2 separate regions of the Homo sapiens genome follow, and region 1 is linked to region 2. The links come from fine-mapping of genetic effects on gene expression. A gene starts in region 2. The other region holds a variant in brackets. All regions are shown on one strand. Distances are between the middles of the regions. Region 1 has its middle 81 kb from the start of ST3GAL5-AS1. Region 2 holds the start of RNF181 (ring finger protein 181).

Region 1 (16,274 bases), 370 kb after region 2:
ACTGCTGCAGCCAGCGTGATGACAGCAGCTGCTTCAGATGGCCTGCCCCTGCCATCAATACCATAGGATTCACCCCATTTAAAGGATATAATTTAATGGTTTTTATATATTCAGAGTTGGGCAACCATAACCACAGTCCATTTTACAAGGAATGGCAACTTTTAAATTCATAATTTTTCTTCTCCTTTCTCTTTTTATTTCTTATTGAATTGGTTAGGATCACCAGCAGACTATTAAATAAAGTAGTAATGGCGGCAGTGGGCCATCTTGTCTTGTTCTTGACTTTTCTGGGAATGTCTAATTTTTTGCCACTGAATAGGAGGTTTGCTACAAGTTTTTGTTAGTTAGCCTTTAGCAAGGAAAGTTTCCTCCTACCTTTAGATTGCTGAGAATTTTAGATTCTAATTCAGAAATAGGCATACATTTTATCAAATCTATTCATGAAAGCATTTATTGTGATGGGAATATCTTTTCTGCCCTTCATCTAGTCCTGTAGCAAATTATCTTAATAGATTCTCTGCTTAAAGCTATCTTTATATTCTTTGTGTATAATCCTTTTAAAACACCACTGGAGTCAAGTTGCTAATAGGTTTATTATTATTATTATTATTGTTGCCTTTAAGTTTTTAGTGAGATTAGCCCATAGTTTTCTTTCTTTCTCTTTCTTTCTCTCGTTCTTTCTACCTTTCTTTCCTTTCTTTTTCTTTCTTCTCTCTCTCTCTCTATCTCTTCTTTTTTACAGGGTCTTGCTCTGTTACTCAGGCTGGAGTACAGTGGCGCGATCATGGCTCACTGCAGCCTTCACCTCCTGGGCTCAGATGATCCTCACCCAACATCAGCCCTGCAAGTAGCTGGGACTACAGGTGCATGTCCCCATGCCCAGCTATTTTTTTTGTATTTTTTTGTAGAATGGGGTTCTCGCCATGTTGCCCAGGCTGGTTTCAAACTCCTAGGCTCAAGCAATCTTTGTGCCTTGGACTCCAAAAGTGCTGCGATTACAGACGTGAGCCACCATGCCCAGCCTAGTTTTCTTTTCTTTCTTCTTCTTCTTCTTCTTTGTTTTTAATATTTTGTGGTGACACAAGGTCATGCTTTTCTCAGAATGCTTTCAGGTAATGACTAAGCTAGAGTGAGGAAGGAACAAGGGCCCAGCCATTTTCCTTGAACACAGCCTCCACTTATTTGTTTATTTATTTATTTTGAGATGGAGTCCTGCTCTGTCACACCCAGGCTGGAGTGCAGTGGCATGATCTCGGCTCACTGCAGCCTCTGCCTCCAGGGTTCAAGTGATTCTCCTGCCTCAGTCTCCCAAGTAGCTGGAGTTACAGGCAACTGCCACCACGCCCAACTAATTTTTTGTATTTTTAGTAGAGATGGGGTTTCACCATGTTGGTCAGGCTGGTCTTGAACTCCCGACCTCAGGTGATCCATCCACCTCGGCCTCCCAAATTGCTAGGATTACAGGCGTGAGCCACTGTACCCGCCTCTAATTTGATTTATAATTTTATTGCATGGCTTCTAGAACTCTGGGGCTTCTTGTTGGCCTGGCAAATACTTGGTCAGATATGTATCCTGGTCTGACAGCTTCTCTTACCTAATCCTGAGCCCACCTTTTCTCTTTTGCAGGTGTGACAAACTGTTTGCATTCCTAACTTCAAGTCAACAGTTGCCTCTCGAGGAGCCAAGATGGCCAAATAGGAACAGCTCCAGTCTACAGCTCCCAGCGTGAGCGACGCAGAAGATGGGTGATTTCTGCATTTTCAACTGAGGTACTGGGTTCATCTCACTGGGGAGTGCCGGGCAGTGGGTGCAGGACAGTGGATGCAGCACACTGTGCGTGAGCTGAAGCAGGGTGAGTCATCGCCTCACCCAGGAAGTGCAAGGGGTCAGGGAATTCCCTTTCCTAGTTAAAGAAACGGGTGACAGACAGCACCTGGAAAATTGGGTCACTCCCACCCTAATACTGCACTCTTCCAATGGGCTTAACAAACGGCACACCAGGAGATTATATCCAGCACCTGGCTCGGAGGGTCTTATGCCCACGGAGCCTCGCTCATTGCTAGCACAGCAGTCTGAGATCAAACTGCAATGTGGCAGCGAGGCTGGGGGAGGGGCGCCCACCATTGCCAAGGCTTGAGTTGGTAAACAAAGCGGCCGGGAAGCTCAAACTGGGTGGAGCCCACCACAGCTCAAGGAGGCCTGCCTGTCTGCCTCTGTAGGCTCCACCTCTGGGGGCAGGGCACAGACAAACAAAAGACAGCAATAACCTTTGCAGACTTAAATGTCCCTGTCTGACAGCTTTGAAGAGAGTAGTGGTTCTCCCAGCACGCAGCTTGAGATCTGAGAACAGGCAGACTGCCTCCTCAAGTTGGTCCCTGACCCCTGAGTAGCCTAAATGGGAGGCATCCCCCAGTAGGGGCGGACTGACACCTTACACCTTCGGGTACTCCTCTGAGACAAAACTTCCAGAGGAACAATCAGGCAGTAGCATTTGTGATACACTAATATCTGCTGTTCTGCAGCCACTGCTGCTGATACTCAGGCAAACAGGGTCTGGAGTGGACTTCGAGTAAACTCCAACAGACCTGCAGCTGAGGGTCCTGACTGTCAGAAGGAAAACTAACAAACAGAAAGGACATCCACACCAAAAACCCATCTGTACGTCACCATCATCAAAGACCAAAGGTAGATAAAACCACAAAGATGGGGAAAAAACAGAGCAGAAAAACTGGGAACTCTAAAAATCAGAGCACCTCTCCTCCTCCAAAGGAATGCAGCTCCTCACCAACGATGGAACAAAGCTGGATGGAGAATGACTTTTGACGAGTTGAGAGAAGAAGGCTTCAGAAGATCAAACTACTCCGAGCTAAAGGAGGAAGTTTGAACCAATGGCAAAGAAGTTAAAAACTTTGAAAAAAAATTAGACCAATGGATAAGTAGAATAACCAATGCAGAGAAGTCCTTAAAGGACCTGATGGAGCTGAAAACCACGGCAGGAGAACTACGTGACGACTGCACAAGCCTCAGTAGCCAATGCGATCAACTGGAAGAAAGGGTATCAGTGATGGAAGACGAAATGAATGAAATGAAGCGTGAAGAGAAGTTTAGAGAAAAAAGAATAAAAAGAAACGAACGAAGCCTCCAAGAAATATGGGACTATGTGAAAAGACCAAATCTACGTCTAATTGGTGTACCTGAAAGTGATGGGGAGAATGCAACCAAGCTGGAAAACCCTCTGCAGGATATTATCCAGGAGAACTTCCCCAATCTAGCAAGGCAAGCCAACATTCAAATTCAGGAAATACAGAGAACGCCACAAAGATACTCCTCGAGAAGAGCAACTCCAAGACACACGATTGTCAGATTCACCAAAGTTGAAATGAAGGAAAAAATGTTAAGGGCAGCCAGAGAGAAAGGTCGGGTTACCCACAAAGGGAAGCCCATCAGACTAACAGCTGATCTCTCGGCAGAAACTCTACAAGCCAGAAGAGAGTGGGGGCCAATATTCAACATTCTTAAAGTAAAGAATTTTCAACCCAGAATTTCACATCCAGCCAAACTAAGCTTCATAAGTGAAGGAGAAATAAAATACTTTACAGACAAGCAAATGCTGAGAGATTTTTTCACCACCAGGCCTGCCCTAAAAGAGCTCCTGAAGGAAGCACTAAACATGGAAAGGAACAACCGGTACCAGCCACTGCAAAAACATGCCAAATTGTAAAGACCATCAAGGCTAGGAAGAAACTGCACCAACTAATGAGCAAAATAACCAGCTAACATCATCATGACAGGATCAAATTCACACATAACAATGCTAACCTTAAATGTAAATGGGCTAAATGCTCCAATTAAAAGGCACAGACTGGCAAATTGGATCAAGAGTCAAGACCCATCAGTATGCTGTATTCAGGAAACCCATCTCACATGCAGAGACACACATAGGCTCAAAATAAAGGGATGGAGGAAGATCTACCAAGCAAATGGAAAACAAAAAAGGCAGGGTTGCAATCCTAGCCTCGGATAAAACAGACTTTAAACCAGCAAAGATCAAAAGAGACAAAGAAGGCCATTACATAATGGTAAAGGGATCAATTCAACAAGAAGAACTCACTATCCTAAATACATATGCACCCAATACAGGAGCACCCAGATTCATAAAGCAAGTCCTTAGTGACCTACAAAGAGATTTAGACTCCCACACAATAATAATGGGAGACTTTAACACCCCACTGTCAACATTAGACAGATCAACAAGACAGAAAGTTAACAAGGATATCCAGGAATTGAACTCAGCTCTGCACGAAGTGGACCTAATAGACATCTACAGAACTCTCCACCCCAAATCAACAGAATATACATTCTTTTCAGCACCACACCACACCTATTCCAAAATTGAACACATAGGTGGAAGTAAAGCACTCCTCAGCAAATGTAAAAGAACAGAAGTTATAACAAACTGTCTCTCAGACCACAGTGCAATCAAACTAGAACTCAGGACTAAGAAACTCACTCAAAACTGCTCAACTACATGGAAACTGAACAACCTGCTCCTGAATGACTACTGGGTACATAAAGGAATGAAGGCAGAAATAAAGATGTTCTTTGAAACCAATGAGAACAAAGACACAACATACCAGAATCTCTGGGACACATTCAAAGCAGTGTGTAGAGGGAAATTTATAGCACTAAATGCCCACAAGAGAAAGCAGGAAAGATCTAAAATTGACACCCTAACATCACAATTCAAAGAACTAGAAAAGCAAGAGCAAACACATTCAAAAGCTAGCAGAAGGCAAGAAATAACTAAGATCAGAGCAGAACTGAAGGAAATAGAGACAGAAAAAACCCTTCAAAAAATCAATGAATCCATGAGCTGGTTTTTTGAAAAGATCAACAAAACTGATAGACCGCTGGCAAGACTAGTAAAGAAGAAAAGAAAGAAGAATCAAATAGACGCAATAAAAAAATGACAAAGGGGATATCACCACCAATCCCACAGAAATACAAACTACCATCAGAGAATACTATAAACACCTCTATGCAAATAAACTAGAAAATCTAGAAGAAATGGATAAATTCCTCAACACATACACCCTCCCAAGACTAAACCAGGAAGAAGTTGAATCTCTTAATAGACCAATAACAGGCTCTGAAATTGAGGCAATAATTAATAGCTTACCAACCAAAAAAAGTCCAGGACCAGATGGATTCACAGCCGAATTCTACCAGAGGTACAAGGAGGAGCCGGTACCATTCCTTCTGAAACGATTCCAATCAATAGAAAAAGAGGGAATCCTCCCTAACTCATTTTATGAGGCCAGCATCATCCTGATACCAAAGCCTGGCAGAGACACAACAAAAAAAGAGAATTTTAGACCAATATCCTTGATGAACATTGATGCAAAAATCCTCAATAAAATACTGGCAAACCGAATCCAGTAACACATCAGAAAGCTTATCCACCATGATCAAGTGGGCTTCATCCCTGGGATGCAAGGCTGGTTCAACATTCAAAAATCAATAAACTTAATCCAGCATATAAACAGAACCAAAGACAAAAACCACATGATTATCTCAATAGATGCAGAAAAGGCCTTTGATAAAATTCAACAACCCTTCATGCTAAAAACTCTCAATAAATTAGGTATTGATGGGACGTATCTCAAAATAATAAGAGCTATCTATGACAAACCCACAGCCAGTATCATACTGAATGGGCAAAAACTGGAAGCATTCCCTTTGAAAACTGGCACAAGACAGGGATGCCCTCTCTCACCACTCCTATTCAACATAGTGTTGGAAGTTCTGGCCAGGGCAATCAGGCAGGAGAAGGAAATAAAGAGCATTCAGTTAGGAAAAGAGGAAGTCAAATTGTCCCTGTTTGCAGATGACATGATTGTATATCTAGAAAACCCCACTGTCTCAGCCCAAAATCTCCTTAAGCTGATGAGCAACTTCAGCAAAGTCTCAGGATACAAAATCAATGTGCAAAAATCACAAGCATTCTTATACACCAATAACAGACAAACAGAGAGCCAAATCATGAGTGGACTCCCATTCACAATCACTTCAAAGAGAATAACATACCTAGGAATCCAACTTACAAGGGATGTGAAGGACCTCTTCAAGGAGAACTACAAACCACTGCTCAAGGAAATAAAAGAGGATACAAACAAATGGAAGAACATTCCATGCTCATGGGTAGGAAGAATCAATATCGTGAAAATGGCCATACTGCCCAAGGTAATTTATAGATTCAACACCATCCCCATCAAGCTACCAATGACTTTCCTCACAGAATTGGAAAAAACTACTTTAAAGTTCATATGGAACCAAAAAAGAGCCCACATTGCCAAGTCAATCTTAAGCCAAAAGAACAAAGCTGGAGGCATCATGCTACCTGACTTCAAACTATACTACAAGGCTACAGTAACCAAAACAGCATGGTACTGGTACCAAAACAGAGATATAGACCAATGGAACAGAACAGAGCCCTCAGAAATAATGCCGCATATCTATAACTATCTGATCTTTGACAAACCTGACAAAAACAAGCAATGGGGAAAGGATTCCCTATTTAATAAATGGTGCTGGGAAAACTGGCTAGCCATATGTAGAAAGCTGAAACTGGATCCCTTCCTTACACCTTATACAAAAATTAATTCAAGATGGATTAAAGACTTACATGTTAGACCTAAAACCATAAAAACCCTAGAAGAAAACCTAGGCAATACCATTCAGGACATAGGCATGGGCAAGGACTTCATGTCGAAAACACCAAAAGCAATGGCAACAAAAGCCAAAATTGACAAATGGGATCTCATTAAACTAAAGAGCTTCTGCACAGCAAAAGAAACCACCATCAGAGTGAACAGGCAACCTACAGAATGGGAGAAAATTTTTGCAACCTACTCATCTGACAAAGGGCTAATATCCAGAATCTACAATGAACTCAAACAAATTTACAAGAAAAAAACAAACAACCCCATCAAAAAGTGGGCAAAGGATATGAACAGACACTTCTCAGAAGAAGACATTTATGCAGCCAAAAAACACATGAAAAAATGCTCATCATCACTGGCCATCAGAGAAATGCAAATCAAAACCACAATGAGATACCATCTCACACCAGTTAGAATGGTGATCATTAAAAAGTCAGGAAACAATAGGTGCTGGAGAGGATGTGGAGAAATAGGAACACTTTTACACTGTTGGTGGGACTGTAAACTAGTTCAACCATTGTGGAAGTCGGTGTGGCAATTCCTCAGGGATCTAGAACTAGAAATACCATTTGACCCAGCCATCCCATTACTGGGTATATACCCAGAGGATTATAAACCATGCTGCTATAAAGACACATGCACACGTATGTTTATTGCGGCACTATTCACAATAGCAAAGACTTGGAACCAACCCAAATGTCCAACAATGATAGACGGGATTAAGAAAATGTGGCACATATACACCATGGAATACTATGCAGCCATAAAAAAGGATGAGTTCATGTCCTTTGTAGGGACATGGATGAAGCTGGAAACCATCATTCTCAGCAAACTATCGCAAGGACAGAAAACCAAACACCGCATGTTCTCACTCATAGGTGGGAATTAAACAATTAGAACACATGGACAGAGGAAGGGGAACATCACACACCGGGGACGGTTGTGGGGTGGGGGGAGGGGGGAGGGAGAGCATTAGGAGATATACCTAATGCTAAATGACTAGTTAATGCATGCAGCACACCAACATGGCATATGTATACATATGTAACAAACCTGCACGTTGTGCACATGTACCCTAAAACTTAAAGTATATTAAAAAAAAAAAAAGACAAAAAAAAAAAAAACCAGTTGCCTCTTGTGGCACCCAACTGGCACATATGCTATGCTTTCCAGTTTGGTATTTAGCTTTGTAGATTTCTGATTATTTCCTATACTCTGGAAGAATTCATATATCATAGAAAGTATTAGACCCTTGAAAATTAGATGTAATTCACAAATAAAACCATCTGAGTCTGTTTGGGTGTTTTTTTAGAAAAAGAACTTTGACAGTTGTTCTAATTTCTTATGTGTTTATTGACCTATATAGGTTTTCTGTCTCTTCTTGTGTTCATTTTGGTAATTTTGAGAGTTGAACCCAATCTCTCTTCCCTGCTGCAAAATCTCATTGCATAGTCCCTACAAAAAAAAAAATTGGTAATTTACACTTTCTTAGAAAATTTTGTATTTCAATCTAGGTTTTCAATTTTTTAAATTAACAATTTCTTTTTGATCATCTTTGGAAATATTTAAAAAATATCCATAGTTGTATTTTCTTGCCCATTTCAAACATTAATTATCTTTTAAATTTAAATATATTTTAAAATGAATTTTAACTAGATTTGTAAATAGTAATGGTCTTTTCAAAGATCAAGATTTTGTTTTATTAACTAAGTTCATATTTTCTGTGAGTGTTCTACCTCATTAAATTCTGCTGATTTTTATACTCCATCCCTCTACTTTCTTTGAGTTTATTTTGCTGCCTTTTCATTCTAGACTATTGATTTCATGCTCTTTCATTTAGTGTTAGCCCTACTTGTTTCTAATAAACTTATCCTGAGTCCCACTTGGGCCATGTCCCACAAGCCCCTAAAACAGGGTTTCTGATGGTCACTTCTTTCTAGTTTACGGTTTCCTCTTTAACTTAAGAGTAATGTTAACTTAAGAGTAATGTTAGAGCAGGAGTTCCTAACCCACAGGCCGCAGACGGGAGCAGTCTGTGGCCTGTTAGGAACTGGGCCACACAGCAGGAGGCAAGCAGCCTGAGAATGAGCATTACCACCTGAGCTCCACCTACTGTCAAATCAGCAGCAGCATTAGATTCTCATAGGAGTGCGAACCCTATTGTGAACTGCACATGCGAGGGATCCAGGTTGTATGCTCCTTATGAGAATCTAATGCCTGATGATCTGAGGTAGAACAGTTTCATCCTGAAACCAGCCCTCTCACTGCATATATGGAAAAATTGTCTTCCTTGAAACTGGTCCCTGGTGCCAAAAATGTTGGGGACTGCTGCATTAGAGGTTGCTTTAGAACTTCCAGTTGGGGGAAAATACATACATACATACATACATATATATATATATATATATATATATATATATATATATGTATATGTTTGTTATCTTGTATGTTTCATTTGGCTTTTTAATTTTTTTTTCTTTTTTTGAGACCAGGTCATGAGACTGGCTAATTTTTGTATTTTTGGT[A/G]GAGATGGGGTTTTTCCATGTTGCTCAGGCTGGTCTTGAACTCCTGGCTTTGAGTTATCCACCCACCTCAGCCTCCCAAAGTGCTGGGATTACAGGCATGAGCTACCATGCCTGGCTGCTGCTTTTTAATTTTTAATTTTATTGTGCAGTGGCCAGACAAGAAGGTTTGTATAACTTATGCTTTTTGAAATGTATTGGAATTCTCCTTGTGGTCAAATACATGACTCATTTTGTAAAAGGACTGTAGATGCTTGAAAGAATGGGTACTTTCTATTTATCCAGTATAATATTCTATTGATATATATATACATTCAATAGATTTCAGAATTCTATTCTGAGGTACACTGAAGCATATGATTAGTATATCTTTTTGGTGGACTACAACTTTTATCAATATGAACTCTCCCTGTTGGCCTTGATGCTTTTTATTTCAAATTGTTGTTTTTGGTGTTAATATTGATACGTCTGTTTTTCTAGCAATTTACCTAGTGTTCGCTGTTTATTATGTAATAAACAACAATTTACCTGTCCTTGAAGCAATTACATAATATTTGATACGCATTTAGGTAGCATATATAGTTCTATACCTTTGTTTTCAAATATCCTGTATAATTTCATTTTAGATATAACTTTTGGCAACAGCAGTGGCTCATTTTTTAAATTTTCTTTACCTAAACTGAAACTCTGTGTCTTGTAATAGGCTAATTTAACCTATTCATGAGTACTGTTATTACATATGCGATTAGATTTATTCCTGTCATGTTATTTTCTGTCTTCTATTTATCATACTTTCTTATTTTCTTTTACTTTTTAATCTTTTCTTCAGGTGATCGTTGTTATTCCATTGTTTTTCCTTTTACGGATTGGCAGTTATATATCCTATTTCTATTCCTCTTGTGGTTATAATTAAATTTTGATGACATGTACTTGAACATAGTTTTCTAAAATGTTTTGAAGTAATCTAGACTATTAACAAACTACAGCCTATGGGCCAAGTTGAAACCAACCAAATAGTCCCATAGACTGTTCTTTTGGATAAACATAGAAATTGACTTTTCTGATCTTAAAGCTTGAAGTTTACATTTGCTTTATCTGAGTTCCTTCCTCAGGAAAAGACCTTCAGGCCTCTCAAGAAAGTAGCAAAGAACTGAAACTCCCCAGATCACCACATTCAGACAATGACATGCCTGACCCCTCATTCATCATGATTGCTTCCTTGCCCCTCCCTGGTTCCTGTTTCTTTACACATCATTACATTTCTTCCCTGCTCTATAAACCCCAGGTTTTAGTTTGTCAGAGAGACGGATTTGAGACTGAGCTCCCACCTCCTTGGCACCCAATTAAAGCCTTCTTCCTTGGCAGTGCTTGTTGTCTCAGTGACTGGCTTTCTGTGCTGTGAGCAGCAGGACCTAGACTGAACCCCTGGTATTTTGGTAACAAAATCCCACCTATTCCACATTTTTGCACAGCCTAGAAGCTAAGAATTTTTTTTTGTATTTGTATTTATTTATTATTGAGACAGGGTCTCACTCTGTCACCCAGGCTAGAGTGCAATGGCACAATCAAGGCTTACGGTAGCCTTGACCTCTGATGCTCAAGAGATCCTCCCACCTCAGCCCCCTGAGTAGCTGGGACTATAGGTACACACCACCATGCCCAGTTAATTTTTGTTTTTGGTTTTTGTTTATTTTTAGGGGGTAGAGACAGTGTTTTGCTATGTTACCCAGGCTGGTCTTGAACTCCTGAGCTCAAGTGATCCTCCCACTTTGTTCTTCCAAAGTGCTGGAATTCCAGGCATGAACCATTGCACTCGGCCTTTATATTTTTAAGTGGTTAAAAAAAATCAAAAGACAAATAACATTTTATGACACATGAAACGTATATAGCATTCAGATTTCAGTGTCCATAAGCAAGGTTTCATTGGAACACAGCCACACTTACTTGTTTCTATATTGTCTTTAGATATATATATAGTTGTTTATATATGTAGCTGCTTTTGTGCTATCATGGGAGAGTTGAGTGGTTGAGACAAAGACTGTATGGCCCACGAAGGCTAAGATATTTGTAATCTGGCCCTTTACTGAATAAGTTTGCTGATCCTTGGTCTAGATGTCTATCCCCACTCCCCATACAAGAGTTACTACAGAGATTAATTCTTTCCAGCCAAGACTCACTCCATATCATTTCTATATTGTATTCGTTTGGGATTTGAGTTCCAGAAACAGAAAATAATCCAAATGTTCATCAACAGGTGAATGGATAAGCAAATTATGTACATCAAGCACAATGGAATGCTACTTTTCAGTAAGAAAAGAATGAACTATTGATACATACAACAACATGAGTAAGTCTGAAAAGCATATGGCTGACTGAAAGAAGCTAAATGTGGAAGGTTACATACTATATTGTAACATTAATGTGACATTCTAGAGAAGGCGAAATTACAGTGACAGAGAGCAGATCAGCGGTTTCCAGGGGCGAGGTGTGAGGGAGAGGTGATTGGCTGCAGAAGAGCATGAGGGAAAGTTTTGGGGTGATGGAAATATGTTATGTCATGGCTCTGGTGGTGGTTGCACAACTGTATCACAACTTTGTTAAAACTCATCCAGAAAAACAAAATTGGTGAATTTCATTGTATGTAAACTATAACTCGATAAAACTAAATTTAAAAACCTGTCCTGGGTAAAACAAATCTTTAATGAAGAACGGGAAGAATCTATGACAGGAAGGGGCTTGAGAGAACACTCTGAGGTGATGGCAATTCTTTGTGTCTTCATGGGGGTTTGCATTGTGCAGGTTTGATGCATTTGACAAAATTCAGCTAACACATATGCAAGATTGGTGCATTTCATTGTATATAAATTTTACATCAAAGAGAATATATCAAATATTGAATTCTAGTTAGTGATCTGTATACTTGAATATTTAGGGGGAAATGTACTGAAGTCACAATTTACTTTGAAATCCATCAAAAATAAGATGGATTAGTGAATGGCTAGATCAATAGATATGTGATAAAGCAAGTAAAGTGTTAGTGGTAAATGTCATGCTAATGGTGGGTGTTCTCTATTAAATTAAAATAAAATCTTTGTTCTGCCTTGTAAGAAGGTTGTGTTGACATTGAATGGTTGTATGCACTCAGCCTGGCAGCTGGATCCAGTCTCTTTAACTATGTCATCTATGAAGAAATAGTGTTGAAACATTTTTGTACAGAGTACATACCTTACTGTGCTCATATTCCCTTCTTTAAATGTCAAGGAAAAGACATGACAGGACCCACCCCACGTACTTGCCTAGTTTGAGCCAGCAGCTCACCTGGACCTTCCTGCTTTCTGACTTGCAGCTGTCTTTGTTGATGATCTATAGAGGCCCCTCCTCTTTAAGCCTGAGGGGTACAAGAGTCTAAGTGGTTCCCTGGGACCTGGTTTACTGACTGCTGGAACCCTGGAGATGGCATGCTGGCAATGAGAGAATCTTACGGAACTCAACTTGGTACCAATGCCCTAGTGAAAAAGTAGTGGAGTCCTTATATATCAGCATTGGAAGGGCACTTAGACACCATTTTACAGATGAGGAAACTGAGGTCCAGATAGGGAAAATGGCTTGCCCTAGTCCACATAGCTTCATGACAGCAGGTTCTACACCCCAGCTCTCCCCACTCTCAGCCCTATTTGGGCTGCAGCCAACCTGACGGTTTTTTGAGGGCACTGGTGGGAGGATCCCTGGGGTTTGTGAGGTGGTAACAGCCACAGTGTGAGTGAGATCTGGATCCCACCTCTGGCCCTGTGACCTTGGACAAGTTATTTAATCTCTAATACTGGGTTTCTTCAGGAGTAATATGAGAAGAACAATATCTTTTTTGTCAGGGTATTGTGAGGTTTCACTGGAACATCATCTGTGGAGCCATTTATGCAATGCCTAGACCTGGTGGGTGCTCACTCTGTGGGCACCACTGTCATTGGTGTGCTCATGAGCGCACTGACCTGAGATTCTGAGAAACCAGATGTTGGCTCTGGTGCTACCCTCACCAGCTGTGACTCTACTCCTCACAAGAATCTTCAAGGTCGTAGTTTTATCCGGGTTTTACAAATAAGGAAACTGATATGCGTGTCCAACCTCAAATCTTCAAATCTGGATCAAACGCAAATATTGTTTCTAGTCATTCTCTTGGCAGGAATGGTCTCAGCACAATCACCAGTAGGCAAAGTTTATTTTAGTGCTTCCTTCTTCTCTTTCCAATCTTCTGTCCTTCTCTCCCCACCAAGTGAGTGGGAGGAAGAGAAAGTTGGGGACCGTTTGATGTTCCTGGGTGTTAGTAACACTCGAGGGAGCCACACTTCCCAGGGGCCCTCAGGGCAATCTAGAAAGTTCACCACTCTTCCAGCACTGGCAGACAAATCCAGCCAGTGCCTAGAAAAGGTTCATTTGTGACATCCACAAGGCAGGGGCACTCCACACACACTTCGCTGACCATTCGCATCTGCATCATTTGGGAGCTTGTCAAAACTGACAATTCTGCCTCTGCCCCACCCAGACCCACTGAATCAGAGTCTCTGGGGATGGGGCCCAAGAATATGAGTTTTAGGAAGCTCTGTAGGGGATGCTTAGGCACAGTAAAGTTTGAAAAGTACTATTCCAAGGGACCAGTAAGAGGACATAGGAGTGGACCAGTCTCTGTAATTTTGCCATTTTCCAAAAAGAGACCTCTAATCTGTGCTGAAGTTCATTTCCAAGGACTGAGTAGGGCTGAACAGGGTAAATCTCATTTTAAAATAAGTGTTCCCTCATTCCTCTCACAGCCCTCTTCCAACATGTTGTTTTCACCTTCAACAGAATGCCTAAGTGAAAAGGAGGGATGCAGTGTGTTTGGCAGCGTGGAAAAGATCAGAGGGGTGTGAAACGAATTCATATCTGGCATGACCGAGCTCTGTTGGGAGGACCTTGGCAGGGCTTGAAGCAGCCTCAGAAGAGAGGTGGACCCCAGCCAGTGCTTAAAACAAGAAGCCTGTCAGCTGCTGCCATTTTCCTGTGTTATAGGAAGACCACAGACCCAAGTCAGACAGGCCCGGTGTCTAATCCCTGGGACCTTGGATGGTGACTGGGCTCTCTCTGCCAAGGGGATTATGTGTGTTCGAGCACCTGGCACCTAGGAAGCATTCAGCATAGGCTGAAGTAGCCCCTCCTTTGACCCTTGTTGGGAAGGGAAGGCAGTGCCAGACCCATGCCAAGCAGCCTTTCTGGTAGCTGGTCTTTTGGTCACACAGGGAACCCCCAGAAGCCTCGCTTCAAGCCCTCTCCATAGAAAACCCACACAGCCAGGGTTTGCTGTGGCTCTTCTGCCCTGTTGAATGTGTCTCCGTGACCATGTACCCATCTGGAAGACTAAGTGTGTGGCCACCTTCACTAGCAAAGATCACCCTCGCTCCGCCAGGTTCTCTCCTTCCCACTCTCTCTGCACCTCTGCCCTTTGGTCCTTTTCAAGCACTAGCCTCTGTGCCCAGTCTTTGGTGTGGATGTTGGGGCCTTTTTAGCCATTTCTGTCTGCATGACTGGTTAGTGGGCAGGGGGAGTGACGAGTGGGCTGGCAGAAAGTTCCTTTGGATTTCATTAGCCCTCGTGGTGATCAGCATTGAGGTAATGCATCTGCAACATCACGTGTTCAACCTATGAAGAGTAAACTTCCCGCTGGCGTTTCTACTATACCTTGTTATTCAAAAATGGTATATGTCTAGGCCAGGTGCAGTGGCTCACACCTGTAATCCCAGCACTTTGGGAGGCCGAGGTTGGTGGATCACCAGAGGTCAGGAGTTTGAGACAAGCCTCACCAACATGGTGAAATCCTATCTCTACAAAAAAAATTCTGTAAAACTACAAAAATTAGCCGGGCATGGTGGCCAGGCACCAGTAGTCCCAGCTACTTGGGAGGCTGAGGCAGGAGAATTGCCTGAACCTGGGAGGCGGAGGTTGCCGTGAGCCGAGATCATGCCACTGCTCTCTAGCCTGAGCGACAGAGTGAGACTCCGTCTCAAAACCAAAACAAAAACAAAATGGTATCTATCTCCTCCCTAGCCTTGAGTTGCATTGTGAGAGCCTCAGTAGTTCCCACACTCCAGGAAAGGGGGTACAGAAGAGGGAACACCTGCCTCTCCATCATGTTGTTATTGATTGATTAATGTTTCACCTTGGGCATCCTCAAAGCTACCTGAAGAATCTCACTCTGGGTGTTTCTTCTTTTCCTTTTACTTGTACTGATAGGGACCCAGGTTCTCAAATAAGGATTCTATTACGAACACAAGAGCTAAGGGAATGGTGCATGAGGATCCATCCACAACCATCGCCATGTGTCCCATGGCTGAGGCACAGGGCTTGGGGGTAACCTGACCCCACAGGAGGCTATAGAATTAGCCATGCATGTATTCAACAACAACTACCCTAGTGTGCTTTGATCTAAAAACTCATCATGTGTTATCAAAATGCATAGTGGTACAACCCTCAAAGCCAATTCCAGGCCAGATGAGGGCTTTCAGGAGGGAGATAGAGTTAGAGGTGTAAAAGATTAGAGAAGTTTCTACCAACATCGAAGACCCACTCCTCACCCGCTGCTGTCCTCACCTCTGTTTTATTTGCATCTTTCTTTTTTCTTTCTTTCTTTTTCTTTTCTTTTTTTTCCGAGATGGAGTCTCACTCTGTCACCCAGGCTGGAGTGCAGTGGCATGATCTTGGCTCACCGCAACCTCCGCCTCCTAGGTTCAAGTGATTCTCCTGCCTCAGCCTCCCGAGTAGCTGGGATTACATGCGCACACCACCATGGCTGGCTAATTTTTGTATTTGTAGTAGAGACGGGGTTTCACCATGTTGGTCAGGCTGGTCTCAACCTCCTGACCTCGTGATCCGCCTATCTCGGCCTCCCAAAGTGCTGGGATTACAGGCGTGAGCCACCGTGCCCGGCCGCATCTTTCTATTTCAGCTCCTACCTCTCATCACTCCCCATTCAGATGACCCCCAAACTCCATCACCAGAGGCAGAA
Region 2 (12,084 bases):
AAACCGGTACCACTGAGGTTCCCAGACGGAGAGGGAAGTTGGAGCAGTGATATAGGGAGCAGGATCAGGCCAGGAGGCAGAACTGGCCTGACCAGTCAGAGGCCCAAAGAGGAAGATCTGAGCTTCTCAGTTTGGGGATAGAGGGGTTAGGCAGAGACTATGATGTGTGCTGCTTCAAAATTACCTTTCTAGCCTGTAGGGTAGGTCTCCTCCCTGTGTGTTCCAGCCAGGTAGCTTGGTTACCCATTCTTTGCTGCCTTCTTAGGCCAGTGGGAAACCTTAGGGCAGCTGTGCATTGATTGGGTAGACGCCATTCTGGAGCAGGTGAGAAAAGAATCAGCTTTGTGGGAGGGTGGGGTCCTGGGAAGATCCCACCTTGGGACAGCTTAGAGGAAGCTGAGGTGCTGGAAGCCGGGACTTACCTAGGTCCTAGGCCCTGCCTTGACGTGCAAGGGGAGGAGCCTGTGAGACTTAAGGTGTGCCGCACTCACCCCGAAGGCCAGACCTTCACTCCGCACACATCATACCCTTACACGAAGGATGCTGTTACTCTCATGCTGTACCCACCTACAGGGGGAGAAGGAGGCTTCTAGATCTCAGGGGCAGATGAGGGCCAGGTGGGGGCCTCATGCAGCCCTGACCTCGGGCTTGGTGTCCAGGCAGGAATAGAGTTGGAGCGGTGCCAGCAGCAGGCGAACGAGGTGACGGAAATTATGCGTAACAACTTCGGCAAGGTCCTGGAGCGTGGTGTGAAGCTGGCCGAACTGCAGCAGCGTTCAGACCAACTCCTGGATATGGTGTGAGGCCTGGGGGAGCATGGAGGGGAGGGGAGAGGATTGGGAAAGTCTCTCTTGGGCTGTATTCAGGATCTCCAGTTCCTTGGTGGGGTTGAGGCCTTCTTGAGGGCCAGTGTGGGGCCTCTGGGTTTCCTCAGGCACCCATAGCCTAGACATGCAACAGATAGACCCCACAAGATAAGAAGGCCTTGGTTTGAAGCTGTGGACCTTCTTAAAGGTAGAAAACTGGTATCGTTTTTTGTTTCTTTTTTACTTTGAGACAGAGTCTCACTCTGTCGCCCAGGCTAGTACAGTGGCACAATCATATTTGCTGCAGCCTCTACCTCCCAGGCTTAAGTGATCCTCCTGCCTCAGCCTCCTGAAGAGCTAGGACTACAAGCCTGCACCACCATGCCTGTCTAATTTTTGATTTTTTGTAGAGATGAGGTCTCACCATGTTGCCCAGGCTGGTCTTGAACTCCTGGATCCAAGAGATCCTCCCACCTTGGCTTTCCAATGTGCTGGGATTACAGGCATGAGCCACTGTGTCCAGCCTGAGTACTGGCATTGTTAACTGAGGGTGAGACACTAGGGCTGAAAGTCAAGGGCCACACCGGTGTTTGAGATGAGTCAGGCTGGGAGGGTTCCACGGCAGGTGGTATAGAAAGAGAGCAGACAAGGCCGGGCGCGGTGTCTCACGCCTGTAATCCCAACACTTTGGGAGGCCGAGGTGGGCAGATCACAAGGTCAGGAGTTCAAGACTATCCTAGCCAGTATGGTGAAACCCCATCTCAACTAAAAATACAAAAATTAGCCGGGCGCAGTGGTGTGCACCTGTAGTCCCAGCTACTAGGGAGGCTGAGACAGGAGAATTGCTTGAACCCGGGAGGCAGAGGTTGCAGTGAGCTGAGATTGTGCCACTGTACTCCAGCCTGGGTGACAGGGAGAGACTCCTTCTCAAAAAAAAAAAAAAAAGAAAGAAAGTAGACAAGATGGGGAGGATGCAGGAGGAGACTAAGCCTTACTGAGATGGGGTTGGGAGGAGCTGGCTCCCAGGCCAAGAGGGTGCCAGCTAACTCCCACTTTGTGTCTGGGGGTATCCGCAGAGCTCAACCTTCAACAAGACTACACAGAACCTGGCCCAGAAGAAGTGCTGGGAGAACATCCGTTACCGGATCTGCGTGGGGCTGGTGGTGGTTGGTGTCCTGCTCATCATCCTGATTGTGCTGCTGGTCGTCTTTCTCCCTCAGAGCAGTGACAGCAGTAGTGCCCCACGGACCCAGGATGCAGGCATTGCCTCAGGGCCTGGGAACTGACCCAGCTGGTCCTGAAGGAGAAGCCAAATGGCTGCACTGGCCGATTCTGGTCTCCAGAGGACCTTGGTGTTTGCTCTCCCTTGACCCACCCCAGTGAGTGCCAAAGGGCAGCCCCAACATGTGCACCCCTGCATTTCCTGTCATGCCACAGACTGGCCCTTGAGGGCAGCCTGCTGTACTGGCCATGCTGGGCCAGCCCCACCTGGAGCTCAGTAAAAACTGCTGTTTGATTAAAAGCTGGTATCTGTGTGTGAAGGTCCCCAGGTTGGTTAATCCCATCTGTCTCTACCCCTAGGGCTGCTTAAAAAGCCCATCACCCAAAGGACTCCACCCCTGGGAGATGGCTCCTTCCTCTCCCTTCCCTACTTGATCCAGCCCGACACAGACAGGGAGTGTGGATGCAAGAACACAATGGCCCCCAAAGCAGACCCTTGAACCAGTCCTCCCCATCTGAGCCTGTTTCTCTGAGAATGAAATCTATTATTTTTCTGTCATCTTGGGGATGCTTAGAGGACCAATGAGACTGTAGATGCGATGACAAAGAAGAAAGCACTTCACCAATTTTTTTTTTTTTTTTTTGAGACAGAGTTTTTGCTCTGTTGCTCAGGCTGGAGTGCAATGGCACTATCTCAGCTCACTGCAAACTCCACCTCCTGGGTTCAAGCAATTCTCCTGCCTCAGCCTCCCAAGTAGCTGGGATTACAGGTGCCCACCATCACACCTGGCTAATTTTTGTATTTTTAGTAGAGACAAGGTTTCACCATGTTGGCCAAGCTGGTCTTGAACTCTTCACCTCAGGTGATCCACCTGCCTCGGCCTTCCGAAGTGCTAGAATTGCAGGCATGAGCCACCGCGCCTGGCCCAAAAAATTTTTCATAAGGCTCTCACCTTCAGATAAATGGTTTCCCCTCTGAACACTTCCCACTCCTCAATTTCTCTTTCCACATTCTATCTACCTCAAGCTTTACATCAGACTGCAGATGGGGGAAGTGACAGCAAGAGATGGGGACCTTAAAGCACTCCTTGGTATTCCCATCTCCCTCCCTCCCTTCCTTCCTTTTTCGACGGGGTCTCTCCTGTGTCTTCTCTCCCTCCCTCTTTCGACGGGGTCTATGTTGCCGAGGCTGGTCTCGAACTCCTGGGCTCAAGCAATTCTCTTGCCTTTAGTGCTGGGATTGCAGGCGTGAGCCACCATGTCCAGCCTGAATTCAGGCTTTTCAAAGCTACAGGGCCATATAGGCCAGGGAGGCAGTGCCTTCAGGGCCATAGCAAAGATCATTGGGCAAAGGCATGGAAGAAGGAAATAAAGCCACACCAAGACTGTGGAAACAGGGCAGCCTCTGCCTGGGCTACTTAGCTGCAGTTCAAACTCAGGTGTGAGTGGCAAGGGGAATTCAGGGTCAAGTGTGTAAAATAAGCAGTTCCTTGCTGGGTAAAGTGAGCGCTACTGACAGAAACCAGAATAAGCCTGAGTTGTGTGGAGCTTCACCCCTTACAGAGCGTGTTAGTTTTACTGAGCGCATTAGCGTCTTCCTCTCTTGGGAAAGATGGAGGAAAGCACTTGGCCCTGCAGCTGGTCTGCAACACCACTTACAGACTGCAAATTTGGGCAAGCCACTTCTGAGGTAAAAAGGGCATAATGACGCTTAGCTCCTGGGTCTATTGAGGGGATGATCGAGCGTGTAAAACATACATCAGACTAACAGTTCTAGATGCTAAATAGTACCTATCATCCAAATCATTGAGTGCAGTGGTTCTTAAACCTGCTTCACCTGCATAATTTATACAAGTGCCATTGCCCAGGCCCCACCACAGATCAGTTAAATCAGAATCTTCGAAGGTATCAGACACGGGTGTTTCTAAAGCTCCTCCGCGCCCATTCTCTCCTCTGGGAATTCATGTGTAGCCAGGAATGAAAAGGTCTTAGTACAAGCCAGCAGTTTTACAGAAGCTAGGGATAGCAACGGGCTGAAGGTAACAGTCCCATGAGCTGGTTGAGGCCCCAGGTTCTCCGGCAAAGAGATCTCTCTCAGTTGGGGAGGCTTGCCCCACCCTTTATTATTATGCCTAACACATAAGAAATGCGCAGGAATCAAACGCAAACTGGTGAACCAACTAGAGGGCCGCGGGGGCAGAAGTGTCCGGCGGGGATCCGGACAGCGCATCCGGAAGCGCCATGGGCCAACGCTCGCAGGAACCTGAACCCCTGGGCCAGCGCCGCCTTTGCTCGCAGAGGCCTCTAGCATCTGTACTGTCGAAGCCCTCTGAGCTTCAGGGCAGACTGAAGAGCCTTACACACCAGACACTTGGACGCGATCGCGCCAGAAATCCCCGGGAATTCAGTCTTGGCTCCGACTCCAAAACAAATGATTCCTCACCAGCCAGATCTCCATCATTGGCGTTAGTCTCTGGTCACCTGACTTGTTCAAGCCAATGAGAGGGGGCCGAATTAGTACTTCCGCTTTCCGTGCTGTTTAACGAGCCACTATGCCCGTCCCTCGGATACTCTGATTGGCCAGCCTCTCTCAGCTCGTCAGTTTATTGGCCAGCGCCGCTAGGCCGCTATCGAGCAGGGTCCGAGGGCTGTGTCAGAAGGCTGGGCAGCCATGGCGTCCTATTTCGATGAACACGACTGCGAGCCGTCGGACCCTGAGCAGGAGACGCGAACCAACATGCTGCTGGAGCTCGCAAGGTGGGTGCGCGGGGCTTGGGGATAGGGTCCAACCAGCAGGTTTCTGGGCTGGGGCTGGCTGGAGAAGGCGGATTACCAGGGGCAGCGGATTCTGGGGAGGACAGATGAGTAATCTGGAGTGTTAGTACGGGCGGCGAGACTGAGGGGTGTGGGGATGAGCATCTCGATAATTTGGGCCGTCCGTTGGGCCGGCCTGGGGCAAGGGGATTGCGGGAAAGATTGGAGCTGGAGAGTGGTGGGCGTGGGGGCGGAAGGACAGCAGGCTCTGGGAGGTCTCAGAGAAGGTGAGGCATGGGGGCGGGGTTGGGGCCGTGTGCTGTGAGTGGGTATATTCATCAGTAACAGCAGGCACTGCTGTTACTGGACCTGGAATCTGGCTTGGTCTTGGAATCTGGGCTCTACCAGGTTATTCAGCGTAGCCTGAGTAACTTCTCTGAATCTGTTGCCTCATGTGTAAAATGGGAATAAACACTTTACGTGCTGGGGCGGTCTGATAGCAGTTGTAAACTATTTCCCATCGTGCTTTTTATCTAGTGAGCATCTACTAACTACTAAGGGTAGCTATTATTCCTACTAGCTGGGCAGCGTGTTTATTAATGTCCAGTGGATTATGGGGACAAAGAAAAAGCATAGTTTTCCTTTGTTCTGACTTTACATCCCCTTCCCCAGGTCACTTTTCAATAGGATGGACTTTGAAGACTTGGGGTTGGTAGTAGATTGGGACCACCACCTGCCTCCACCAGCTGCCAAGACTGTGGTTGAGAACCTCCCCAGGACAGTCATCAGAGGCTCTCAGGCTGGTGAGGACACTGATTCTTTCTGCTATTTGGGCCAGACCCACCCCTTCCCCAAGCCAGACTGTGGTCTGGTCCTTCAGTTTTCCAGGTCAGGTGGGGGCAAGTGTCCTTCAGGAGTGGGAGCTTGGGAGGCAGAGCCTGTAGCAGCTCTCCTGATCAGCACTCCTTCCTAAAGAGCTCAAGTGCCCCGTGTGTCTTTTGGAATTTGAGGAGGAGGAGACTGCCATTGAGATGCCTTGCCATCACCTTTTCCATTCCAGCTGCATTCTGCCCTGGCTAAGCAAGGTACTGCTTCTCTTCTTCTAGCTCTCACCGTGCCCTGGGCCCAGTACTCAAGCTTCTTTCTGTTCATGGACTGCTGGGGGATGGAAGAAGAGTGGCAGTTGGGAGCAGGGGAGGGTGGTTATCAGCTTATGAAGATCAGACCAAGGCTAGAACACTACTCTACTTTTCTCAGACAAATTCCTGTCCCTTGTGCCGCTATGAGCTGCCCACTGATGACGACACTTATGAGGAGCACAGACGAGATAAGGTAGGGGCTGATGCTTAAGTGGAGGGGTCGTAATGGGCTCCCTGAGTCCTGTCCCCGCTGCCATCACTTCCCACCTCAGCAGGACTGGGTAGGCCTCAGAATCCCTGGCTCTGGCTGTCTTCTTAGTGACTTTGATTTGTGGTGAGAGCCTCAGCAATGCAGACGCCAGAGGCCTGAAAACAGAGCCAGCCCCATAATAGCTGCCCATCCCCTCACCCATAGGCCTTCAGTTTTGGCCCCTGCCCAGCATGCCTTCTTTCCTTCAGGCTCGAAAACAGCAGCAGCAACACCGACTGGAGAACCTCCATGGAGCCATGTACACGTGAGGAGGTTGGGGCTGAGTGCTGGCCCTCTGCGTCTTCCTTATTAACCTTGAATCCTCATTAAAGGTTTCTTTACCCACCCTGAGGCTGTATTGATCACAGACCTGGCCAGGGGCTCTGCATCCTCCATCAGGTCTCTACTTCTGTTGGGGAAGGTGATCCTAAATCGCAGAAGGCACCAGGCTGCGGTTTTCCTCCCTGCTGGCCCATCTGGACTCATGGCAGTGGTAAAGAACTGGATTACTGCAATAGCCAGGGCTTGGGCCTATGTGTTCATGGTTGGAAGGCAAAATGTGTCAGGGTCTGGTACCCAGTTAATTACTTAAAGCTGATAAACTAGGCTGGGTGCAGTGGCTCATGTCTGTAATGCCAGCAGTTTGGGAGGCCAAGACAGGTGGATCACGAGGTCAGGAGTTCGAGACCTTCCTGACCAACATGGTGAAACCCCGTTTCTACTAAAAATACAAACATTAGCTGGGCATGGTGGCACGCACCTGTAATCCCAGCTACTTGGGAGGCTGAGGCAGGAGAATTGCTTGAACCTGGGAGGCAGAAGTTGCAGTGAGCTGAGATCATGCCATTGCACTCTAGCCTGGGCAACAAGAGCAAAACTCCGTCTCAAAAAAAAAAAAAAAAAAAGCTGATAAACTAGCCTGCACCCTCCTCCCACTGCAATGTCTAGTTAACTTTGTAATCCCACAGGTTTTCTTTTTGCTCCATTGAGAAAGCCACTTTTAATATTTTAAAGTTGCTCTCTGTACCACCCCCACCTTCCCCCCATGCCTCCTAAGGAATCAAAGTTCAAACCAGACTCTGAGTGGGGGATGGGTGAGATTATCAGACCAAGTTAGTTCTTTAGATTGCTTAGAGGCCCAGAAGGGTTTCAAGCCCTTTGAAGGGGTATTTGGGTGGCACCTGGCATCCTTTGTTTCTGGCAACAGAGTGCACTCAGCACTCCTGGGGGGCAAGGGCTTCCTCCCATCCTTGGCTTATGGAAAGCCATCCCAGATCAGGCCCCCCAACTCTCCAGAACAGGCTACAAACATGCAAATTAGAATTCTTTTAATATAAAAAAAAGTACTAAAATACCCACGTGGTTCTGCTGTGTTATTTGCCCTAAAGGAAGTGAGGGGCAGAGTGAAGAATCCCAGTGCAGCTCAGTGGGCCCAGAAATGGGCCTTTCCGTAGGCTAAGGCGTGCCCACTCCACCTCCACCAGACTTCTATCCCCTCTGCTGTTCCCAGCCCCCAATTCCTGCAGCAGGAAACCCCAGTGGTCTGGCTTTGGCACTGGGAGTAGAAGGCACCTGAAGGGCTGGCTGGGTGAGTGAGGACAGGTGACCTTTAAAAACAAAACGACACCGTGGGGTGGGGAAGCAGGTCATGCAGCTGTGGCAGCTGGCAGGGCCCACTCCTCCATGGCACAGGTGGGCATGGGATGGCCACTTCTCCAGAAGTGAGGAAGCCCAGATCCCAACAGAATACTTTCTCAAAATTGTTTTTGGTACGAAATAAATGGAAAGAAGATATGGGGTGGGGTGCTGTGGAGGCCGGGCCAGCCACCCTCCCCAGACCTTAGATCATAGCGATGCTCTCGGGGGCACAGTTGAGGTGGGTGGAGGTGCTGCTGCTCCCGGAGGACTTGCAGGCCCGGCCAGGGGTAGGCTGCAGTGCAGCCACCAGTGTGTCTGAGGAGACTGCCCCAAACTCGTAGCTGAAGGTGCCATAGAAAATGAGGATATCGATGACACACACCCACTCACACAGGGCTGCCCCATGTTGCAGCTGAGAACTCTCATGGACAAAGAAGACTCCACCTAAAACGAGGCTAAGGAAATGTTCAGTAGGACATACGGAAACCTGGCAACACCCCTTCTGCAGTCTCAGGCCTCACCTCTCCAAAGGGAGAGGTGTTAGTCCTCTCCCCCACATGGCAGTGTTAGGCCTCCACCCCCCATCCTCTTGGGAGGGAGAAAGGTTGAGCTAGAGGATGAGTTCCTGGCTGCCCCGTCCTGAAAGGATACTGAGGACCAGGGTGATAAAGGCGATGACAGCCAGCACACTTCGCAGATAGGCCACAGCCAGGTCCAGCGGGGCGGTGGCCCCTTGGTAGGAGAGAGCACAGTGCAGGCAAACAAAGAGCAGCCCCGCAGGGAAGGCCACGCCAGCTCCAACGTAGTGCAGAGACCTGGCATGATCCACCTGGGCCCAGAGAAGGGCCAGTTGGTGATGTGGCCATGGCCCCACCTCTCCACCCCTCCTTCAATGAATCTCCTCTCTCCCTCTTCCTTCCTCTCCCTCTTTCCAGCCCCAACCTTGAGGTGCCACACTGCAGGCAGCCAGGCCTTGTTAGGTAAAGTTTAAGGTTTGCAGGGGAGAAGGGGAAGCACCTGAAAGTTGCCAACCACCAAGAGGCCCGCAGCGTTGGTGCAGCCTGTGATGAGTGCCGTGGTGTTAACCCAAGAGTGCCGACTCTGCTCCAGGAGCTGCCCGTAGCGCAGGAGGCAGATCAGGGCCACTGGGGGAGGAGAGCACAGTTGAGGCCTTCCTCCAGCCCTGGCCCTGCCCAGCGAGCCTGTCAGCTTCCCCCAGACGCTGTGGTGCTCCTGCCCCTTCTGAGGGGCAGAAAGGAACAGACAGGCGGGTGGTGAACTAGGTTTCCTCAGGCTCCAGCCAGCAGGGTGGCTGTGTGGGAGTCAGCTTTTGGCCTTCAAGGAAGGGGAGAAGCTGCCTCTATTGCCTTAGCCCTTGGTGGGGAGGGCTGCACAGAAGGGCTTCCTGGGCCTTTCTGTGTGGGGATCACTGGGCTGGGCACGCAGGGTCAGGGCTAAGGGTACAACTCACCCATGAAAGCACCCATGTTGCCAATGAGGCTGAAGAGGCAGCTTTCTGGGGGATAGGAGCCACACTTGCTGCGAGGAGGGGGAAGGACAGAGTAAGAGGGGTGCAGGAGGCCCGGGGGGCCCCCATTTTGGCTCACTGGCTCTCCCCTGCTTTACCTGCACCTGCTCCTTAGCAGGCAGGCCACTGATTTATGTGAAGATCCAGGGTCCCTCATGAACAACTGGTTCCAGGCTGGGCCCCCAAAGCAGAGCTCATGTGTGTGAGAGAGAAGGGAGTGCCCAGGAGTGTTCGGGCAACCCTGACACTCTTTGCTGAGCCCTGCGGCTGGTTTGGCTATCCTTGAGCCAGAACACGGGCTGGGCAATCTGAGGGCTCCAGCTTAAATCCAGGTGCCTCCGCTTATTAGCTGTGTGACCTGGATGAGGAAGACTGAGCCTGTTTCCTCACCTATAAAATGGTGAAAACAATACCTGCCTCACTCCTGGGAGGATGAAAAGAGACAATGCATATAAAGCACTCAGCAGAGTGCCTGCCCCACAGTAACTGTCAAGTAGTGTTGTTATTAAGTGGCTCTTAGGATACTTATTGTTCCTGAGACCCAAGGACAGCTCTTTGCTTGAGGGGCTGTCTGGGAGGCCCTTAGATCTCCCTGACCGGCCCAATGTCCAGGCCTTACCTGATGAGGGGGACATCGTCCAGGGTGCAGCAGGTCTTGGGACCCCCTTGCTCAGCAGGGTCAGGAGGGCAGGACTCGTTGTAGGACCTGGCAGGCAGGACAGGGAGTAGACTGGGGGAAGGGACTGCCCCCAGGCCCTTGGCCTATAGCCTCAGGCCTCAAAGAGGACTCTCTCCCAGACCTCCCCTACAGGGACAGAAGATCCCACTCCCCAGTGCCCGCCTGAAGCAGTAACCAAAGGGGCAAAGGGATAGTGGGAAGTGGGTAGGTGGCAAGAAGCCATGCCTGGGGACCAATTTCAGAGAAGAGCAGTGAGGCTCAGGGTTGCAGTCTGGCTCGTGGCAGCCTCAGGCCCAAGAGGGGACAGAGATGAAGGAAGCTTTAGAGCAAGGTTGTCTGCAGAGTCCTTCATACCAGTTCTCCACAGGGCATACATGGTGGTTCATCACAGCCATGGCATACCTGTGGGAACAGAACTGTCACCCTGGCAGCCTTCCCGAGCCCCACTCAACCCACCCCATGACCCTTCTCTTCAACCTTGATTTCTGGCCCCATTCAGCCTCATTATTGTTGCTGGGGACTCAAGTTGAGGTCCCTAAGGCTTGATGCCACACCAGCACCTGCAGCATGCCCCCAGCTACAGGCCCTCTGGAAATTGCCCTGGCTAGAAGTATATTTGTCAGGGCCACCCTGCTGGACAGCAGTGGTGCCAGCTTGTCCCAAGGGGCTGTGTGCCCAGGCACCAAGTCAGGCTTTTGAGACACCCAGAGTGACCCTGGGTACCACCGTGGCTATGACAGGACAAGAGACTTTGTGTGCGTCATCAAGCTCCTGTTGCCCCCCGGGCACCCCCCTTTACTCACACAGTCCATATGCCAGTGATGGAGAACGCTGACAGGCTGACAGGCAGGAGGATCCAGGCGGTCATGAGGGAGGGGAGCCAGGGTGGTGGTGGTGTTGGGGGGAGGACAAGAGGTAGATGGGGAAGTGGGGGCGGACCAGCTACCTTGAGATGTTTCTGCCACAACCATCAGCTGTCCTGGCCTGGTGGAGAGAGATCAAAGTCCAGGAGTGGGTAACTGGCCGGGAAGGGGGAGGGGAAGGGGGTCAACACCTTATCCAGCGCTCCCGTTGGGTCTCTGAGCGTCCAAAGTTTGGGCTGAGCCCACGGCAGAACGTGAACACCCTCTGGCACTGGGGGCCTCCGCGGTCAACCCAAATGCCACCGGCGTGCTGAGAGACGCAGGCGGACCGTAACATCTGGAAGGGAGTTACCCTCCTTCTGAGGGACCAGGGCTGGGAGAAGGGCTGGACAACCGAAGAGGCCACGCCAAGGAGAGGCTGGGTGCCGGCCCAGTGGAGCGGTGGCGAGTCGGCGGCGCGCAGGCAACCACCTGACCATCGGCGCCCTGGGCGAGGGGCGGGTTCACGCGGAAAGCCCAGCCCGGCCCGGCCCCCGCTCGCCTGGGCGCGGGGACCCCGGCTGGGGCCGGACCCTGCGGCCGGCGACCCCCCAGGACCCGGGACGCGAGAGTCCCCAGGTGATTCCTGGAAGCCCGGAGGAAGGGAAGGAGCCCAGTACGCACCTCCCCGGAGCGCCCCGCCGCCGCCGCACCCTGCTCGGCCCCCTCGTGGCGCCGACTCTAGCTGCGGCCCTCGGAGCAGCCCTGAAAGGTTTAAAGGGCCGAGCGGCCCCGCCCCTGGAGGCCCCAGGCCTCGCCGCGCCGCCCGCCGGGACGTGGAGTCCGCGCAGCCCCGGCCTCGGTGCCCGCGCCCTGCCCGAGACTACAACTCCCGAGCCCCCGCGCCCGCGTCACGGGGGAAACGTGGGCGGTGTCCCAACTTCGGAGGACCTGGGCGCGGAGGGCTGTGGCGTGAAGACCGCTCTAAAACCGAGATGACTAGAGGTTCCGTTTAACCGATTCCTGCCGGGGAAGCGTCAGCAGGTGGGGATCTCGGGGCAGCCTGCATTCCAGCTCTACCTGGGATTGTCGCCGTGCACATGGCTGGAGGAGCGTCTCTCCGCCACTGCGCACATTTTGCAGCCTGCACCGGCCAACGGTGAGTCCTCTAGGAAGCTCTCTCAACGTGGCGCCCCATGCCTGCCTCTGGCCAGGGCTGCGGTGGGT

Evidence for each region. PIP is the estimated chance that this variant, and not a neighbour inherited with it, causes the effect.
Region 1: its variant is fine-mapped to the expression of RNF181 in whole blood (INTERVAL, PIP 0.97).

Annotation. Positions count from the first base shown.
Region 1 is chr2:85,962,122-85,978,395 of GRCh38, forward strand. No RefSeq gene overlaps it. Among named protein-coding and RNA genes, the nearest start is that of ST3GAL5-AS1, 81 kb to the left of the region's middle. The variant A/G (reference allele first, on the strand shown) is at 9,248.
Region 2 is chr2:85,591,066-85,603,149 of GRCh38, forward strand. RNF181 (ring finger protein 181) reads left to right here and starts at 4,680. Exons shown (of 5, transcript NM_016494.4): 1 at 4,680-4,784; 2 at 5,454-5,584; 3 at 5,757-5,866; 4 at 6,039-6,113; 5 at 6,380-6,643. The coding sequence starts at 4,699. The coding sequence ends at 6,439. It overlaps VAMP5 (vesicle associated membrane protein 5), which reads left to right. Exons shown (of 3, transcript NM_006634.3): 2 at 660-797; 3 at 1,883-2,341. The coding sequence ends at 2,092. It overlaps TMEM150A (transmembrane protein 150A), which reads right to left and starts at 11,633. Exons shown (of 8, transcript NM_001031738.3): 1 at 11,542-11,633; 2 at 10,819-10,999; 3 at 10,370-10,417; 4 at 9,956-10,042; 5 at 9,280-9,347; 6 at 8,826-8,953; 7 at 8,460-8,637; 8 at 7,482-8,252. The coding sequence starts at 10,883. The coding sequence ends at 8,011. It also overlaps a transcript of USP39 not described here. RefSeq lists enhancers at 1,627-2,128, 2,129-2,628 and silencers at 4,572-4,711, 11,103-11,162, 11,263-11,842.